Homo sapiens: one gene and its partners. The protein of the gene in region 1 purifies or fractionates together with the protein of each later gene. This does not show direct contact. Each region holds a gene or a part of one and is shown in the gene's direction. Other genes may lie near its edges.

Evidence for each region.
Region 2: the proteins of IFT80 (region 1) and IFT57 purify together in Homo sapiens (affinity purification with mass spectrometry; 5 studies listed by BioGRID and IntAct, with this or other methods). This does not show direct contact.
Region 3: the proteins of IFT80 (region 1) and IFT52 purify together in Homo sapiens (affinity purification with mass spectrometry; 2 studies listed by BioGRID and IntAct, with this or other methods). This does not show direct contact.

The regions. Positions count from the first base shown.
Region 1 is NC_000003.12:160,256,486-160,263,225, reverse strand, and holds the end of IFT80 (intraflagellar transport protein 80 homolog), read left to right. Parts: intron 1-4,590; coding exon 4,591-4,701; 3' UTR 4,702-6,240; downstream 6,241-6,740.
Region 2 is NC_000003.12:108,219,383-108,226,752, reverse strand, and holds the start of IFT57 (intraflagellar transport protein 57 homolog), read left to right. Parts: upstream 1-4,328; 5' UTR 4,329-4,430; coding exon 4,431-4,642; intron 4,643-7,180; coding exon 7,181-7,343; intron 7,344-7,370. UniProt on the Homo sapiens protein: Required for the formation of cilia. Plays an indirect role in sonic hedgehog signaling, cilia being required for all activity of the hedgehog pathway.
Region 3 is NC_000020.11:43,642,937-43,647,841, forward strand, and holds the end of IFT52 (intraflagellar transport protein 52 homolog), read left to right. Parts: intron 1-3,999; coding exon 4,000-4,047; 3' UTR 4,048-4,363; downstream 4,364-4,905. UniProt on the Homo sapiens protein: Involved in ciliogenesis as part of a complex involved in intraflagellar transport (IFT), the bi-directional movement of particles required for the assembly, maintenance and functioning of primary cilia. Required for the anterograde transport of IFT88.

The DNA.
Region 1 (6,740 bases):
CTGGGGGTGGGAGGAGAGGTGGTGAGGTAAGGCAGGGCATTTGAGAATGACTTCAACATTTCTAGTGTGGGCAGCTGATAGATGGGAATGCCATTAATCTAAAGAATACATAAGAATATACACATTTTGGACCTTTGAGTTTGAATACATGAAAATATACCATTTTGTATGTGATTAGAGTGTCTATCAGGTGTCCAGAAGGAGGTATCTAGCAGGCAATTAGAAATATAAATATGAACACAAAAGGACATTGACAAGGGAGAAATAAGGGCTAGAAAACTAAATTTATTGCCTTGACCATCTAGGTATAGTTGAAGCTATATGAATTGATATTTCTTAGGGAAAGTGTTAGAAAGCTATGGTTGGACCCTGGTGAATATTAACAGTTAAGAGGTTGTTGAAGGAAACCAAAATATGACACCCCAAAATATGTCTCTTTGACACTTATATTTTTGAGCTAAAGACAAGCTGCAGCAAATGGAAGAGCTCTATTCTCCCCCTTTTCCTCCTAAAGACAAAATATAAATTCTCCTTTACTAGAGACAACTCTTGTCAGCTCAGGGACGACTCCAGAGCAATCTACCAAAAAACCTTACTCCGTGGCTGGGCGTGGTAGCTCACCCCTGTAATCTCAGCACTTTGGGAGACCAAGGCAGGAGGATCATGTAAGCCAAGCCCAAGAGTTCAGGACCAGCCTGGGTAACAAAGTGAGACCTTGTCTCTAAAAAAATTTAAAAAATTAGCCAGGTGTGGTAGCATACACCTGTGGTCCCAGCAGGAGGTTGAGGCTGCGGTGAGCCATGTTTGGGCCACCACACACCAGCCTGGGTGACAGAGCAAGACCCTGTCTCAAAAATAGAACAAACCTCACCTGATTAGTTTCTTCCCATATATTTTTTTCCCATGGTTTCCAATCTCTGGAAGCCTAAAACTGTTTTCACTTCTCTAAAAACAGTCTTGTCACATCTTTAAAATTTATTGTTCTTTGTTGAAAATGCTATGTAACCCAGAGTTCCAAGACACTGTTTTGAGTTACCTTTCATTGAGATTTCTCCTGCTGTGATGTACACTGCACATATTATTGAACCGGCTTGTTTTTCTCTTTTCACCTATCTCTCCCATCAATAAACTTACAAGCGTTGAGGAGAAATTATATTTCTTCTCCAACATTGTCTAGGGAGCAGAATATAGGGAAAAAAGAGAGAGAAAGAAAGAAGCAGCATTTAGAAAGGAGAGCAGGAGCCAGAAGAGAATGGTATTATACAGTCTTGAGAGATTTTTCAAAGAGCAGTGGTCAGCAAGGTCCAGAGAAGGCTCTTATTCCAGGGCCGTCCGTGTACTTCTGCATGTCACCATGCCCTTCTCCAGATATACACATGGGTCTCACTCATCTCCTTCAGGTCCCCCTTTTTTTTTTTTTTTTTGAGACAGGGTCTCACTTTGTTGCCCAGGCTGGAGTGCAGTGGCACAATGACAGCTTACTGTGGCCTCAACATAGCCAGACTCAAGCGATCCTTTCACCTGAGCCCTCTAAGTAGATGGGACTAGAGATGAATGCCACCAAGCCCAGCTAAATTTTTTATTTTTTTGTATAGACAGGGTCTCACTATGTTGCCCAGGCTGGTCTTGAACTCCTGGGCTCAAGCAATCCTCTTGCCTTGGCCTCCCGTGAAGTAAACTGATGACATTGCAACCTCCTATTCTATTCCTGGTGCTCACTATCTCCCTTCTCTATTTTCAAAATCTTTACCGCTTCTGGCATACTAGATATATTTTTTGTTTTGTTTATTATCTGCCCTTTCCATTTTTATCTTTGTTTATTATCTCTCTATGAAGACAGTGATTTCTATCTTTTTGTTCACTGGTGAATCCTTGTACCTCAGACAATCCTTGATATATACTAAGCACTAAATATTTGTTGAATGAAAAATTGAATCATACAGAGAAGGTATATAAGATAAGGACTGAAAACAGCCGAAGGTGGTTTTAGTGCAAAGTTCTTAAAGTGTCACAGGATCAGAATTATAGTGGACAGGGAAGAGAATGAGAGTCAGGAATGAGAAGAAGAAGGATGGTAGCTTGCAGGGAGAAGACAGCATAGAGAGCCAAGGATGATGAGAGCGAGTCAGTGAAAAGAAGGACATTTAATGTGTGAGGAATAATTGAAGTCAGATGTCCTAGAGGAGTCAAAGAAAATGGAATCAGAGACATATGTTAAGAGGTTGGCCTGAGACGGAAGAGAAAGATAATGATGGGTGTAGATACAGGTAAGTTCGTGAATGCAAGGAAGGAAAATAAAGTGAATTCATACCTCATGGCCACTATATTCTCTGTAAAGTAGGAAGCTGATCTTCAGCTGAGAGGAAGAGAAAGAGAAATGTGTTAGAGGATGGAGAGCCTTTTGGTATGATTTTGAAATTGCTTATAGGTGACTAAGAATTGGCTAGCGAGTAGAATAAGGAGTGCCAGATAATATTGGCAGTCCCTATACTAGCAAAAGATGGATTTTAGTGTAGAAATCACTTGACAACTATCAGAGAACATTCTTATCTAAAACCTACTATTAAAAATATTCTAATCCACGAACTAAATTATCTGTAGAACACTTTTTAAAACTAGATCAATGCCAAAGCGAAAGTGAAACATTTATTTTCAGTAGGACAGCTATCCACTGACACCCTGATTTGTATTATAACAAATAACTAATACAGATATCATCAATTTACTTGCAACAGAGCAGCAGTTGTTCAGTATATTATCAATGTATGGTTTTATTGTGATTGATTTGAGAAATGTATGTAAGTCAATTTAAGGCTGGAAGAAACCCAAAGCATCCATCAAGTTTCGTCTTCTCTATAAGTGTTTTGTTAGACATAGAAATGAGTGCTTTGCCGTTTAAAAAATATCAGATTTTGCCCTGATTGAAAAAATGAGTCTTTCAAATAATCTAACATCTGCTTGGCTTTTCAATGAGCTGTCACTTGCATCTTAGCACAGACATTTGTCTTCTATGAGTGAGAGGAATTCGTTTATTAATTCATCTATTTTATGTATTATACATAAGTATATGGCATTGTTATTTTAAATAAAGGTGAGCCAAAATATTTACAAATTGCTTCACAGCAATTCAGGTATGGGATATTGGAATTAAAAAAAATACTTAATTTCTTTAACCTCCAGCATAAAAGAGGCATGAAGTCCTATTAAAGTTAAATTAACCCCTCACTTACTTAAGCTAAATCTGTTCAAGCAGACTGAGATTACTTCATTCTGCTTTAATACTACTTATTCCATTCAACTCCCCTAAACAGAGGTGAAAACCTATTCACTTTTGGCCCAGACTCAGGGGTTTGGATTTATTTCCTGTAAATCAGAGTTAGTTTAATCTATGACCCAATTTTTTCCATGTCTTGCCTCAGAAAGGATAAACATTCCTAAATTAGTGATCTCCAAACTTTGTTAACTGGTAGAATGTGCTTTCCTAAAGAAGTTGCTCATAGAACTCAGGGGCAGAGTCTATTCCTAACAAGTCTAATGAACTTAAGAGAGGAATAGGGCTGGGCTAGGGGAGGGGAGACTGCATAACGGATAGAAGGGAAGCAAACAAATAAAAATGTTTGCACTTTGCAGTTATTCTTTTCATGTGTTTCCCAGTCTTGCTTTCCCTTCGCTTTCTCTAACATCTTTTCCTCATTGTCTTAATGACCACCATGTCTTACTTTAAGAGTTGGTGCAAAGGAGCCACTTTCACAGAATATGCTTAGGGGAAGCTAATGAATCCCTGTCTTTCCTCATAACTAGGCTTCCAGTGGAAACTGCAGTATATAAGATGTGAAGCCTATTTGAAAAATGGCTTGGTAACCAGAGTCCGGTCCACTTTTTCCTCGTTTGGAAGACAGCGGTCCATCTCATCCCCTACCTTGTCCCTGAGCACGTGTACACAATCCTAAGGCTCCATGGGACTGTTTAGATGTACCTTTATAAATAGCTGTGACTAGATTTTGGTCTTTTAAATCACAATGAGAGTCTTTGCTTTTTATTATATAATTCTTATTTTTTGGTCTTATTCTTAAAACTACTTTGTGGTTTTTGAGCATTATTTGTTTTTGTTTTTTTTGAGACAGGGCCCTTGCTCTGTCACCCAGGCTGGAGTGCAATGGTGCAATCACGGCTCACTGCAGCCTTGACCTTGAGGGCTTAGTTGATTCTCCCACCTTAGCCTCCCTAATAGCTGGGACTACAGGTGTGTGCCACCACACCCAGCTACTTTTTTTATTTTTTGTATTTATTTTCCCATCTCGGAACTTTGCCATGTTGCCCAGGATGTTGTCAAACTCCTAGACTCAAGCAATCCACCCACCTCAGCCTTCCATACTATTGGGATTACAGGAGTAAGCCACTATGCCTGGCCAAGCATTATTTCTTCTTCTTAACTTTGATGCTCTCTTTTTCTCTAATCTTTTGATGCTCTCTTTTTCTCTAATCTTTTGGAAGTCACACAGTCTATCTGTTTACTCTTAGTTACTTTGGAGTAAACAAAAATGTCTTACACTATCTAAGCATATTTCTTCTTTTTTTTTTCTATTGCAGCTCCAAATAGATTGGGAGAAAATCAAAGCCAAAATTGAGATGGAAATTACAAAAGAAAGAGAGCAATCATCAAGCAGCCAATCCAGCAAGAGTATAGGTTTAAAGCCCTAAATGCCATGCGTATCTTTAAGAAATTTTATCTTTTGAAACACGTTCTGATTAACCAAGGGTAAGCATGTTTTGGTTGCTAAAGAAAAAAGCATAATCTTTAACCGAGTATAAGTACTTGCTGTGTATTTAGTGTAAAAGTACATGCAGAAAGATGAAACACAAAGTAATTGATGTATTTCTATCTTTTATATTTTTTAGTCCAATAATTAGCAAAATATTACTATGTACTTAAGAGATACCTGTGTAGTGTCGATTATATGTCAGTTTTTTGCCCATTACTTCATCCCTAAATCTTCAGCATGAACAAATATTAATGTCGATAATAAAACATTGGACTCTTTGAAATGTATGTTACCATTAATTTCTATTTGACCTCTAAATTGTAAAATGCCTCCAAAAGTTTATTTATAGAACAAAAATACATGAGGATGGATTTGTACAAATGTATAAAATGCCACTATTTATACACCAAGTTCATAGCAGCATTACTGGAATAGCAAAAGATGGAAACAGCTCAAGTGTCTATCATGAATGGATAAACAAATGTGCTATAATACATACAATGGAATATTATTTAGCTTTAAAAAGGAATGAAATTCTGATAAATACTACCTCAGGATAAACCTTGAAAACACTATGCTAAGTGAAATAAGCCAGACACAAAAGGCCAAATATGATGCCACTTTTATGAGGTACCAGCATAGGCAAGTTCACAGAAACAGAAAGGAGAATAGTGGTTGCCAGGGACTGCAGGGAGGAGGAAATGGGGGGTGGGGTTATTGTTTAACGAGTACATAGTTTCTGTTTGGGATGAACAAATTCTGGAAATGGATAGCGATGATGGTTGCTCAACATTTTGAATGTTAATGCCACTAAATTGTACCCATAAAAATGGTTAAAATGGTAAATTTTGTTATGTATATTTTATCATAATTTAAAAAATATATCTAGAATGGGCAAGAAGGATTCTCCTCATTCCTCTCTTGACTTGAGAATGATCAGTCAATAGGCCCTGAAGTCTGAATTTGTGAAAATTTCCTTGGGTGACAAACTTGTTTGATTACTCTATTTAGTGTATCCCAAAGTTATTACCACATAATCTTTTAAACAATAAAACAAATACCCCTTAGAAAGTCTTCTGCAAACCCATTTCTGAAAATGGTACATTATAGGGTGGGTATAGATGCATAGATATGGGATTATGTATGATATATATATATATACACACACACACAAAGGGATAGAGAGATTACCTCTCTTAACCCCCATTTTAATTACTATGTCTAGGTTTTTTAAATAAAAATCTTTTCTTTTTAACATGTTTCTTTTCTTTTCCGGAATATTGGAATATTCTGTTCTTGATCCAGATGAAATCTGATTGAGCAGTGTACTTACAAGTTGTACTGTGTATGTGTTTCCTATATTGTTATATTTCAATAAGAAGCTTAAAATGTTTAAAAATAAATGGTTAAAAGGTTTTATGTTATGTATATTTTACCACAATAAATGCAAAAAATAAAAAGTCTGTGTTCTAAACAATTCTCTCATATCCTAGAATTCAATCCAATTCTAACACTAACTACCTAGAATTAGAAACAGATCCCACAAGTTAAAGGGCAAGGTTCCCAAAAAGACTGCCTTTATTTATTTATTTGTTTATTTATTTTTTGAGACAGGGTCTGGCTCTGTCACCCAGGCTGGAGTGCAGTGGCCCCATCACAGCTCACTGCAACCTCCGTCTCCCGGGTTCAAGCAATTCTAGTGCCTCAGCCTCCTAAGTAGCTGGGATTACAAGTGCCCACCACCACACCCAGCTAATTTTTGTATTTTTAGTAGAGACAAGGTTTCACCATGTTGGCCAGGCTGGTCTCAAACTCCTGAATTCCTGACCTCTAGTGATCCGTGCTCCTCGGTCTCCCGAGGTGCTGGGATTACAGGCATGAGCCACCGCACCTGCCCTAAGACTGCCCTTATTTTAGACTCCAGCCACAATCAGAGTCCCCAGGCTACTCACACTTGTGTCTGACTTGGCTGCACAT
Region 2 (7,370 bases), about 52 Mb from region 1:
GTAATTCCTACCTCAGACTTCTTTAAAATTTATGCTTACATATGAATTTCAGAATAGCCCTCCTGGAATTATAGTTGAAATTATGCTAAATTTATAGATTGGGCAAATATGCTGACTTTTCTCATTATAAACATTGTATTCCTATTTGAATTTTTCCAAAACTTTCAGTAAAGTTTAACAATCTCTCTATAAAGATAATGATAGGTTTGTTCCTGGGTGCTGTGTGTTGCTTATTATGAGGTTTGTTTTTCTAACTATCATCTCCAGTAACTTTTGGGGTTTTAAGTGCTTTTAATTCAAAATAGTCAATAGAATACTATGCATCCAATAACTCTTTTTAGTTTGGACCTCATATATGGCAAACTTGCTGAGCTATCTTAATAGCATGTCTGTAGATTCTCTTGGATATTTTAATTAATCACAGCAACTGCAATAGTTACTCCTATCTTTTTGTCTGAGTGCACTGGTTCTGGTCTATAGGGCAGTTTTGAAGAGGTAATGTAAATTGCTTTACGAGGCACCGCTTTTAAAGATTTACATATAAATATGATTTTTTTCCTTCTAGATTTTTGGCAGACACTTTTGATGAGGTTGAATGGGGCTTAGAACATGCCACCCCAAAATATGCTGCTGTTGCATACTGATTATTGTGATATGAAGGCACCTGCGATACAGCAGATATATGAAGGGCTCTCTGACCTTCCCCTTCCTACTTAAAAGCAAGTCATAAAATTTCCCATGAGAAAGAAGCCATCCCTGTACCAGGAAATAACATTTTTATGATGGGAGCCTGGAAATTAATGCTAAAATGGGTCTGCAGAAACAAACCTATTAAAATAATCTTTATCTTCCACTAATTTTACCCATATTTTTCCTAGTCACTTGTCTACAGTTTGTCAACCTTAAATCCCTTTTCCTTTGTCTTGTCACTTCCCTACAAATGTATCATTCTTTGTTTTCTTTAAAAAAAAAAAAGGCATATAAGCTGTTGGTCCTATCCGCTTCATTTTTCTTTTGAATGCTCCCATGTGCATGTAAAAATATTAAATAAAATTTGTGTGCTTTTTTCCTGTTTACTTGTCTTATGTTCATTTAATTCACAGGCCCAGCTATTGAACCAAAGAGGGCAGAAAAAGTTTTTCCTTCTCTATAGTTTCAAGGAAGATTTATTCAGTTAGCGATTTTCTAAGTTTTTAACAACCCAAATGGGTGGTACTAAGCCATTTATAACACAGCACAGCTTTGTTCTTTAAGCCTACCCAGTTTGCCTGAAGGATTTGCTCTTCTATTTGAAGGTGCAGCTGGAAAGCCTTCCTCCATTCTAGAATCTGCCTCCTTTTCACCCCCAGCCTTGCTAAGCACCTTTCAGGGAAATCCATTGAGCTTAAATTGGCTTTGACTGGGATACTTTTTTTTTTTTGAGACAAAGTCTCATTCTGTTGCCCAGGCTGGAGTGCAGTGGCACCATCTCTGCTCACTGCAACCTCTGCCTCCTGGGTTCAAGCAATTCTCCTGCCTCAGTCTCCTGAGTAGCTGGGATTACAGGCGCCCATCACCACGCCTGGCTAATTTTTGTATTTTTAGTAGAGACGGGGGTTTCACCATGTTGGCCAGGCTGGTTTCGAACTCCTGACCTCAAATGATCCGCCTGCCTCAGCCTCCCAAAGTGCTGGGATTACAGGCATGAGCTACCGTGCCCGGCCTGGAATGCTATTTAGTTTTCAGAGTTTCACAGAAAGATCCACGAGTTTTAAAAAGCTGAGGCAGGGGAACCGCTTAAATCCAGGAGGCGGAGGTTGCAGTGAGCCAATATCGTGCCATTACACTCCAGCCTGGTGACAGGGCAAGACTCCGTCTCAAAAAAAAAAAAAAAAAAAGTTACTTTCAATTACCTCACAGATAGTTTGAAAGAAATAAAAGTCAAAGTCAGAAGGCCAGCTATTAATAGTGGCGAATACAGTAAAACCAGGGATGAAATTGAGATTTTACAGGAAGAATGAACATGGCTCATTCTCTTCAAGCTCTAACTCCTTAGTCAACAAATAAACTAGTCCTGCAAACCAAAACAACAAAAAAAAACCTGATACAACTGTATTCCCCAAAGTTTCCAAGTGGCTGAAACAGCTAGAAGAGGATTTGAGTGCATTTTCACACACACGAAGAAAACTATCAAGGAAAAGATCTTTTGATGTGTTACAAACTATTACAGGTAAACAAGGAATCAGCAAAAATAATCCCTGGGCTTTACAAAACAATGAAATTTCAGTGTTCTTTCTAAAACTTTTTATTGGGGAAACATGCAGTATTGAACAGTTAGCTTTTTTGTTCTCTTTGTGCCACAATTACTGGAAATACTTTATATTTTTGGGTTTTTTTCTTCTTCACAATTAAGGGGGGAAATTATTCTGTATACTGCTTTCAGGCCAGGCTGTGTCAGTATTTTACCTGGGAAGGAAATGGCTAAGACCCTGGGAGTCGTTTTGTTTCCCCCAAGTTAAAATACATACGTTGCTGGAGGATTTATCAGCTAAAAAGCAACGTTTGACTATTTCATACTGTGTTACGTAACTTCCTGAAAATGTCAGAACATCTTAAGTAGGCAGCATGCCTGGCAGGAACATCTCCCTCCCTGAGTGTAATAAATTTACTTCCAAAGTCTGAGAGCTTTTTCAGAGTCATGTAAAAAGCCCCAGTTTGCTTGTTAGTTAACTTAGGACCCCAAAACATATCTAAGCTTTCATTTTTCAGTCTTATAAAGCCATACATCTATCTTACACTACTGTGACTGTTATACATACATATAACACCCCCAAGCTGCACATGTGGTGGTGGTTGGGGTATGGACTTATCGGGGAGAATCACTGTTTCAAAAAGGCAAAGACCAGGAAAGATCAATTTGGTAGTGGGGTAACATCAAATCCAATTTTCTCACTCAACTTTATTAAAAGCAGCTGGCTCATGACTTGTGGTAGGCAAGCAATGTTATTTATTTAAAAAGCAATTCTCAGTGGGCTGCCCTTCAGGTTATTCTCTACATAAGTCTGTAATTTTATGTACTTCCTTTCTTTAATGAAAAAATGGTATTTGCCCTTCTGACTTTTCACTTTGATAACCTTATTAGTATCAGAAACAAGTTAGCTGTAGACGGATTACAATGAAAAGTGTTCTCATTTTTTCTAATAAAAACAGGATATTGTAGATACATTTCAAATTTCAGTTGTCCAAAAATGTAGCCCTTCTATATTTTGTAGTGGCAGATACAAGAGATCAGAGAGCCCTTAAAAGTCACGTTATAAACATGAACATATGTTCAATCTCTTGTACTAAGTTTTCTTCCCAAAAACTGCCAGGCATCCACCACTTACCTCATTTTTTGCAACTGTTAAGAAAATTGCCTAATACAGAAGCCTTTTGAAAACTGTAAAGCTGGGCCATTTCTGTGGTCAGTTATGTACCTTTTCTTAAATTTTCTAGGTCAATAACTGCAGAATACAGTAGTAACACCCTATCTTTAGCCACCCTTAGAGCTTTAGGGCAGGGAAATTCCTTTTAAGACCATCTCTATTCTGTTGGATTTAACGAAGTACCCAAACACTTTATACTACATGTAATGGGTTTGAAACAGATTAAGCAGCAGGATGGAAGCTTAGTATTCTTGTTTTTGAAGTAAAACAAATCCTTCCAAATGCCTCCTTTTGTTCATTGTCTTCCTCATCCTTCCAACCACTTTCCTAGCACTGGAGTAACAGCCAGGCAACGTAATACAGTACTTCAAGCTTTACAATATACTGTTAAGTGCAGCATTGCCTAGTGAGAGAAAGATAAAATTAAAGAAAGAACGAGAGAAACCTCTCGTTGGAAAGTTCCTGCAGTAAAAGTGAAACCTATGGTATTGACTATCTTTACAACTATGAAAAACTTTTCAATTCTGAGAAAATAAAGGTATCAGTGAGCCAGTGCAGCCTTCAGTGCTACACGTCTTCACCTCCCTTTAATCTTTTTAACAGCTACTAGCTGACCCAGATGCCCGCTTAATTGCTTTTAGCAACCACCAGGTCCAACACACCTCAAGCCAGCTCAAGACTCACTAGGCAAGCGGAGCAGAAACGTAAGCCGGCTCCCTTCAGACTTTCAGCGAGGGAGAAGACGCAGCCGGCAGTGGGGCGCGAACGCCACGCCTCCATGAGGGGCGGGGCTGCTTCCCGACCACCATTTCCACAGAGGCAGGGCAAGAAGAGGGCCACAGGTGACGTCATTCAGGAAAGCCGCCCTGATTGGAGGGAAGGAGGCGGAGTCTAGTTTCCCTGGTGACGGATTGTCCGGTGGTCGCCTGGTAACCGGTCGTGGCTGTACTGGCGGCGGCAGGGCTGGCGGCTTAGGCCGCAGAGGTCTGTGGGCCTGAGCCCACGCTGGACTCTGTCCGTTCTGCGATGACTGCTGCTCTGGCCGTCGTCACGACGTCGGGTTTGGAAGATGGGGTGCCTAGGTCCCGTGGCGAAGGGACCGGGGAAGTGGTCTTGGAGCGGGGGCCCGGCGCGGCCTACCACATGTTCGTGGTGATGGAGGACTTGGTGGAGAAGCTGAAGCTGCTCCGCTACGAGGAGGAGTTCCTCCGGAAGAGCAACCTGAAGGCCCCGTCCAGGTGGGTGCCGGCGTCCCCGAGCGCCCGGGTGCCTGCTAGCCCCCAGGGAGATGCCCTCCTTGGTCCTGCTGGGAACCAGTTTCGTGAGAGCGGGTTAGCAATTCCTTGCCTCCGTCTTCCTAGCCAGGGAAGGGCACTTCACCCCAAACTCCCGGGAGGTCCGTGGAGCTCACGCAGCCCTGACTTGGTATTTTTGTAGAGAGAATAAATAAGTTTTGGAACGGCAGAAAGGATCGGAAGACAGCTTGCCTGTTTTTTTCCAACACACACGCATTACCAGAAAACACAAACTATATTTTCTGATTGTAAAGATGAAACAAATACTCATTGAAGAAAACTCAGAAAAACACAAGTAAATGTCTAGAAAAATTATAAGACCGTCCAAAATTCGCCTCCAGAGAGGAATGCCATTATCACTTAAGGCTTTTTTTCTAGTTTGGGGTTTTTTGTTGTTGTTTAAGACCCTGTTCATACAACTGGGGACCGTGGGTACTTAGGATCCTGTTAAGGAGCACTTTAAATGCGGTTAGTAAACTTGTTAACTACTTGCTATGGTTTAAAAGACTTCTGCCTTTGTAATAACCATACTCTCAGAAACTGAAAAGTGGAAAAGACGAATGACAACTATTGAATTGTCCCCCTATCATAGAACCTAAAGTTTTACCCTTGTTCCGGTGGGGGAAAAGTCCAACATATCCTGAAAGCAATGCCATTACTTGCTGAGGGTAGTGGTCAGCTAGGACCTTCTCCTCAAATCACTGTAGCTTAGCAGTAGCCAGATAAATCAGTTTTATAGCTTTTCTTTCACTTTAATACTTACATTTGTATATTTTATTCCATAAAAGGCAATCAGTATTAAGAATCTATAGTACTTAATGTCTACAGCCAGGCTCAAATAATTTCCCTTGATAGTTTTAATCTCATTCCACTGCTGTCTTCCAATAACTTGAATTGAAAGATATGTAGGCTTGATATAAACTGTTCATATTAAATTAGTCCATGGTCGGAGAAAAGATAAAGGAAAAAGTAGTGTTGCTTGATCCATGTTAGAAAAGGTAGTCCTGGGATTATTACTTAAAGTGAATTGATCAGGATAATATAGACAACCAACATTTCCTATGTTAATAAAAATGCATTTTTTTCCAAGTATATTTTTAAAATGAAAACAAAATGTCCTTAAGGTTCTGTTGATGTCATCTCTTGCACTGTGTCCTCAGGGGTTCAGCAGGATACTTTGAATCATGGATTTGTGTGGGGATATCCTAGTCCAATGGTTCTCAAAATGTGATCACCAGACCAACAGCATCAGCATCACCTGGGAACTTACTAGAAATGAAATTCCTCAGGCCCTTTCCCAGGTCTACCTTTTCAGTAATTATAGGGATGGGGCCTAGCATCTGTTTCAGTAAGCCTTCCAGATGATTCTGATGGACACTAATGTTTGGGAACCACTGTCCTAGGTTTACAGTATCTATTGGTGTTCATTCCTCTGCCCTAGAAGAGTTATCTGCCGATAAGGAAAAGATGACTTTTTGGTGGGTGGGTGCTTTGAAAGGATAGTGAGCATATACCTGGAAGGACTTCATGGCCTTTTTTCTTCCCAGCTTTCTGTTATCTTCCAGAACATTTACATTTATCCTGCAGGAAAAAGTTTGGGAAACATGAAGGAGTACACGACAGATTTTTATGACAATGGTTATAATAGTTGTAAATACATTGTAAACATAATAATGATAGCTACACATGAACAAGACAAATAAGATCTTTGATTAAACTGACTTGAATGTTGTTGCTAGTGAGTTTTATTCCTATAATGTTTAGGTATAAATCATACTGATCCTCGTAGAACTGTGTTTAGTAGACTAGGGGATTAAGCAAGAGCCCACAGATGTTTGACTGGTGATGTGACATTCACAGGTTCTTAATCCTGACTACACCTTATAAACATGTAGAAATCTTTTGAAATATACCCCATACTGGGCCTACTTTCACTGAAGTTCTGATTTAATTCATTCATGAGGGAAGAAGCAATGTTTGGTCAAGTACCAGTATTTTTATTAGCTCCTCAGGTGATTGAATATGCAGCCAACATAGAAACAAATGTTCACCATAGGTGATAGGTTAGAAACAGTAAAAATGCATAATGAGTAATCGTTGAGGTCTTTTTTAAACTCTGAGGTTCTTCCAGATTACCATTTTCATTCATAAGGTACTTACATATTATTACTGACACTTAAATCATTTTGGCAAAAATTCTACATGCTCTGTGCTCTAACATGCACTACATTTCCTGGGTGTAAGGTCTTTGATCTAATATTTTGGGTACAGTAGTAATTGCCCTAATCCTGCTGATTTAAAAACTTCAATGTGAGTGCTGTGGATTACTGGAAACTTCAAAGGGTGAATTATCGAGGTCTTTTGATGGCCATTTGGGGGGAAGAAAGATTGTTGGACAATTGTGAATTCGGCCCTATTAGTTATTATAGACTTATTTGCATTATTTCACATCCGCCCCCATTCCTCCTTGTTTTGAAACAGACACTATTTTGCACTGCCTACCAACCCTGGCGAACAGTTCTACATGTTTTGTACTCTTGCTGCTTGGTTGATTAATAAAGCGGGACGTCCCTTTGAGCAGCCTCAAGAATATGATGACCCTAATGCAACAATATCTAACATACTATCCGAGCTTCGGTCATTTGTAAGTGTAAACGACCCTTCTTTTTCC
Region 3 (4,905 bases), on another chromosome or scaffold:
TAGGCAGATCACCCGAGGTCAGGAGTTCGAGACCAGCCTGACCAACATGGTGAAACCCCCTCTCCACTAAAAATACAAAAATTAGCCGGGCATCATGGTGCGTGCCTGTAATCCCAGCCACTCAGGAGGCTGAGGCAGATGAATCACTTGAACCCAGAAGGCAGAGGTTGTGGTGAGCTGAGATCGTGCCGTTGCACTCCAGCCTGGGCAACAGTGAGACTCTGTCTCAAAAAAAAACAAAAAAACAAAACAAAACAAAAAAAAAACAGCTGGGTGTGGTGGCTCACACCTGTAATCCCAGCACTTTGGGAGGCCGAGGCAGGTGGTTCAGCTGAGGTCAGGAGTTTGAGACCAGCCTGGCGAACATGGTGAAACTCCATCTCTACTAAAAATATAAAAATTAACCAGGTGTGGTGGTGCACGCCTGTAATCCCAGCTACTAGGGAGGCCGAGGCAGGGGAATCTCTTGAACCCAGGAGGCGGAGGTTGCAGTGAGCCAAGATGGCACCACTGTACTCCAGCCTGGGTAAGAGAGTGAGACTCTGTCTCAAAAAAAAAACAAAAAAATAGAGCTGGGTAAGAGGGATCAAGTGTGCTGAGTGTGGCCATGATGACTGGTGAGTATTAAATAGGGAGATCAGGGTGGGTTTCATTGCAAAGTTGTATTGGAGCAAAGATTTGAAGGTGTTGAGAGACTTAGCCATGCAGATATCTGGGGGAGGAGTGTCCCAGGCAGAGGGGAGATGTGTGCAAAGTTCCTAAGGCTGGGCTGTGCCTGGTATGCTTGACGAACGGCAGTGATGCCAGTGTGACAAGAGAACAGAGGAAAGGACAGAGCAGTAGAACATGAGGTGATCACCTTATGTAAGAAATGATTTTCTCAGGCCGGGCACCGTGGCCCACACCTGTAATCCCAGCAATTGGGAGCCCAAGGCGGGCAGATCACAAAGTCAAGAGATTGAGACCATCCTGGCCAACATGGTGAAACCCCATCTCTACTAAAAATACAAAAATTAGCTGGGCGTGGTGGTGCATGCCTGTAGTCCCAGCTCCCATACTCGGGAGGCTGAGACAGGAGAATTGCTTGAACCTGGGAGGCGGAGGTTACAGTAAGCCAAGACCACACCACTGCAGTCCATCCAGCCTGGCGACAGAGCAAGACTCTGTCTCAAAAAAAAAAGAAAAAGAAATCATCTTTCTCTGACTGAGGACCAAGAACTTCAAAATTATCCCTGGCCTTCTTTTTTCCAAGGATTTCAAAAATTGAATGCCCAACCAGCTTTGGTAAATAGGCATTCATACACTACTGATGGAGAATAAGTTGGTTCCACTTGTCTGGAGATATTTTTATAATACTGTTGAAAAGCCCTAAAATGTATATACCGTTGACCCATTCTAATCTTCAGAATTTGTTTTAATAATATAATTCGGAATACGTACAGATTTATCAACCAGGATTCTCAGTGCCACATTATTTTATAGAAGAAAAATCTTCATCAATAGGGAACTGGTTAAGTATCCTAGGGTACATCCATAAGATAAAAAATGTTTTTAAAAATGTTTGGCCAGGAATGGTGGCTCACGCCTGTAATCCCAGCACTTTGGGAGGCTGAGGCGGGTGGATCACGAGGTCAGGAGTTCAAGACTAGCCTGACCAACATGGTGAACCCTCCTCTCTACTAAAAATACAAAAATTAGCCAGGTGTGGTGGCGTGCACCTGTAGTCCCTGCTACTCAGGAGGCTGAGGCAGGAGAATTGCTTGAACCCGGGAGACAGAGGTTGGCAGTGAGCCAAGAACGTGCCATTGCACTCCAGCCTGGGAGACAGAGTGAGACTCTATCTCAAAAAAATAAATAAAAAATAAAAATAAAAATGTTTAAGGACTTGGGCCAGGCGCTGTGGCTCACATCTGTAATCCCAACACTTTGGGAGGCTGAGGTGGGCGGATCACTTGAGGTCAGGAATTCGAGACCAGCCTGGCCAACATGGTGAAACCCCATCTCTACTAAAAATAAAAAAATCAGCTGGGTGTGGTGGCCCGTGCCTGTAGTCCCAGTTACTCAGGAGGCTGAGGCAAGAGATTCGCTTGAACCTGGGAGGCGGAGGTTGCAGTGAGCCAAGATTGCACCACTGTACTCCAACCTGGGCAACAGAGTAAGACTCAAAAAAAAAAAAGTTTAAGGACTTGGGAATACATTCGTGATACAGTAAATATGTGGTGGGGAGAGACTAAAGAACAGTATATAGAGAGATTCTACTTTCTTTACAGAATACAATACACACATAGAATTATTTTGCATAATAAAAAAATAACATAAAGATATTTATCCTTGGGGCCCAGTGCGGTGGCTCACGCCTGTAATTAATCCCAGCACTTTGGGAGGCCAAGGCAGGTGGATCACGAGGTCAGGAGATCGAGACCATACTGGCTAACACAGTGAAACCCCGTCTCTACTAAAAATACAAAAAATTAGCCGGCCGTGTTGGCGGGTGCCCATAGTCCCAGCTACTCAGGAGGCTGAGGCAGGAGAATGGTGTGAACCCGGGAGGCAGAGCTTGCAGTGAGCTGAGATCATGCCACTGCACTCCAGCCTGGGTGACAGAGTAAGACTCTGTCCCCCCCAAAAAAAGAAGATATTTATCCTTGGGCTGGGCACAGTGGCTCACGCTTGCAATCCCAGCACTTTGGGGGGCCAAGGTAGGTGAATCATTTAAGCCCAGGAGTTCTAGTCCAGCCTGGGCAACAGAAACTCCACATCCATAAAAAAATACAAAAATTAGCCAGGTGTGGTGGTGTGCACCTGTAGTCCCAGCTACTTGGGAGGCTGAGGTGGGAGGATCATCTGAGCCTGGGGAGGTTGAGGTTGCAGTGAGCAGTGATCATGCCACTGCACTCCATCCAGGGTGATAGAGTGAGACCCTGTTTAAAAAAAAAAAAAAAAGATAGTGTTTAATTTTTATTTTCCTTCTTTATTAAAATTTCTATAGTGGGCCGGGCGCGGTGGCTCACGCCTGTAATCCCAGCACTTTGGGAGGCCGAGGCAGGAGGATCATGAGGTCAGGAGATCGAGACCATCCTGGCTAACATGTGAAACCCCGTCTCCACTACAAATACAAAAAAAAATTAGCCGCGCGTGGTGGCGGGCACCTGTAGTCCCAGCTACTCGGGAGGCTGGGGCAGGAGAATGGCATGAACCTGGGAGGCAGAGCTTGCAGTGAGCCGAGATCACGCCACTGCACTCCAGCCTGGGTGACAGAGCGAGACTCGTCTCAAAAAAAAAAAAAAAATTCTATAGTGACTGTGTCACTTTTGCAGCAAAAAAAGAGTGTTTTGTTGTTTAATGTAAGCAGGCAAAATTCAAGCTTAGGATTTCAGATGCTGAGTGGAAAGACCAATTAGGTTCTGAGCCTCTCCTGGAAGGAAGCTGGCTGTGCCGGATGCTCATTTGGCAGTGTTTTACTCTCCACGTCTAGCATGGTGCTGGAGGCTGGGGCCATAGCAGTGAACAAGATGATTGCGGTTCTTGCTGTGCCTCTCAGAGCTCTGTGTAGTGGGAGACAGAAGTGTATTGGCAGTTACCGTGGTCTAAGTGCCATCCATGAAGGGAACCCAGAGATGAGGGTTTTGATGTGGCTGCTCAGCAGTGAATGATGGGATGGGAGGTCAGGTAGGTTCCCAGCAGTACTCACTCTGGTGGCATGCTAGGACAGACACCCGAGGCCAATATAAGAAGTCTGGTGTGGTCTTTGCACCAGTGCTTTCAACTCTGTTTGTTACTCATCATGGTGGGTGGTGGGCAGTGGTCACAAGCCCTGCCATGGTAGGGCAAAAGGATCAAAATTTGATCCTTGGGTTGGATTCAGCCCTAAAGCCAGATATTATGTATATGTCCTAATTAATAAAGATTCAGAATCTCTAAAGTCCAAAGCACTGAAGAGTTTACATTTCAGGCTTTATACTGAAATACTAAAATTCTGTGTCTTATTCTCTCATCCAGGAACATGACATCGATACAAGTGAAACAGCATTCCAGAACAATTTCTGAAGACCATGCCTCTTGAAGCTTTTTCTGCCTCCTGATTCTCTCTTTGTAAACTATTTTCAAATTGTTTTTCAACTCCTTATCAAAATTGTTTATACACTCTTTCCTCCATGAGCTCTGGAAGGTATATGCATCTTCTGTAATACTCAGATAGGTATAAGATTTTTCACAAAATCCTTATGTAAGATACATTCCATTTTTAAAAATTAAATGTATGGTTGCATCTGTCTTTTTATACCCTATGAAACAGTCTTGATTTTTTTTTCTCAACCCCAGTTCTGGATTTGAGTCTTTTATCAAAGACATAATTAACTCTCAAGCTTGTTGTAAATACTGTACAGCTTTCTGGACCGGTTGAAAGGATACAACAGTGGCTGGACACGGTGGCTCACTCATGTAATCCCAGCACTTTGGGAGGCCGAGGCGGGCGGATCATTTGAGGTCAGGAGTTCAAGACCAGCCTGGCCAACATGGTGAAACCTGTCTCTACTAAAAATACAAAAGTTAGCCAGGTGTGGTGGCATGTGCCTGTAATCCCAGCTACTTGGGAGGCTGAGACAGGAGAATCACTTGAATCTGGGAGGCAGAGGTTGCAGTGAGCCGAGATCACGCCACTACACTCCCGCCTGGGTGACAGTGAGACTCTGTCTCAAAAAAAAAAGGGGGGGATGGGAGGCTAGGTGCAGTGGCTCATGCCTGTAATCCCAGCACTTTGGGAGACCGAGTTGGGTGGATCACGAGGGCAGGAGATCGAGACCATCCTGGCTAACATGGTGAAACCCCATCTCTACTAAAAGTACAAAAAATTAGCCGGGCATGGTGGCACACACCTGTAGTTCCAGCTACTCGGGAGGGTGAGGC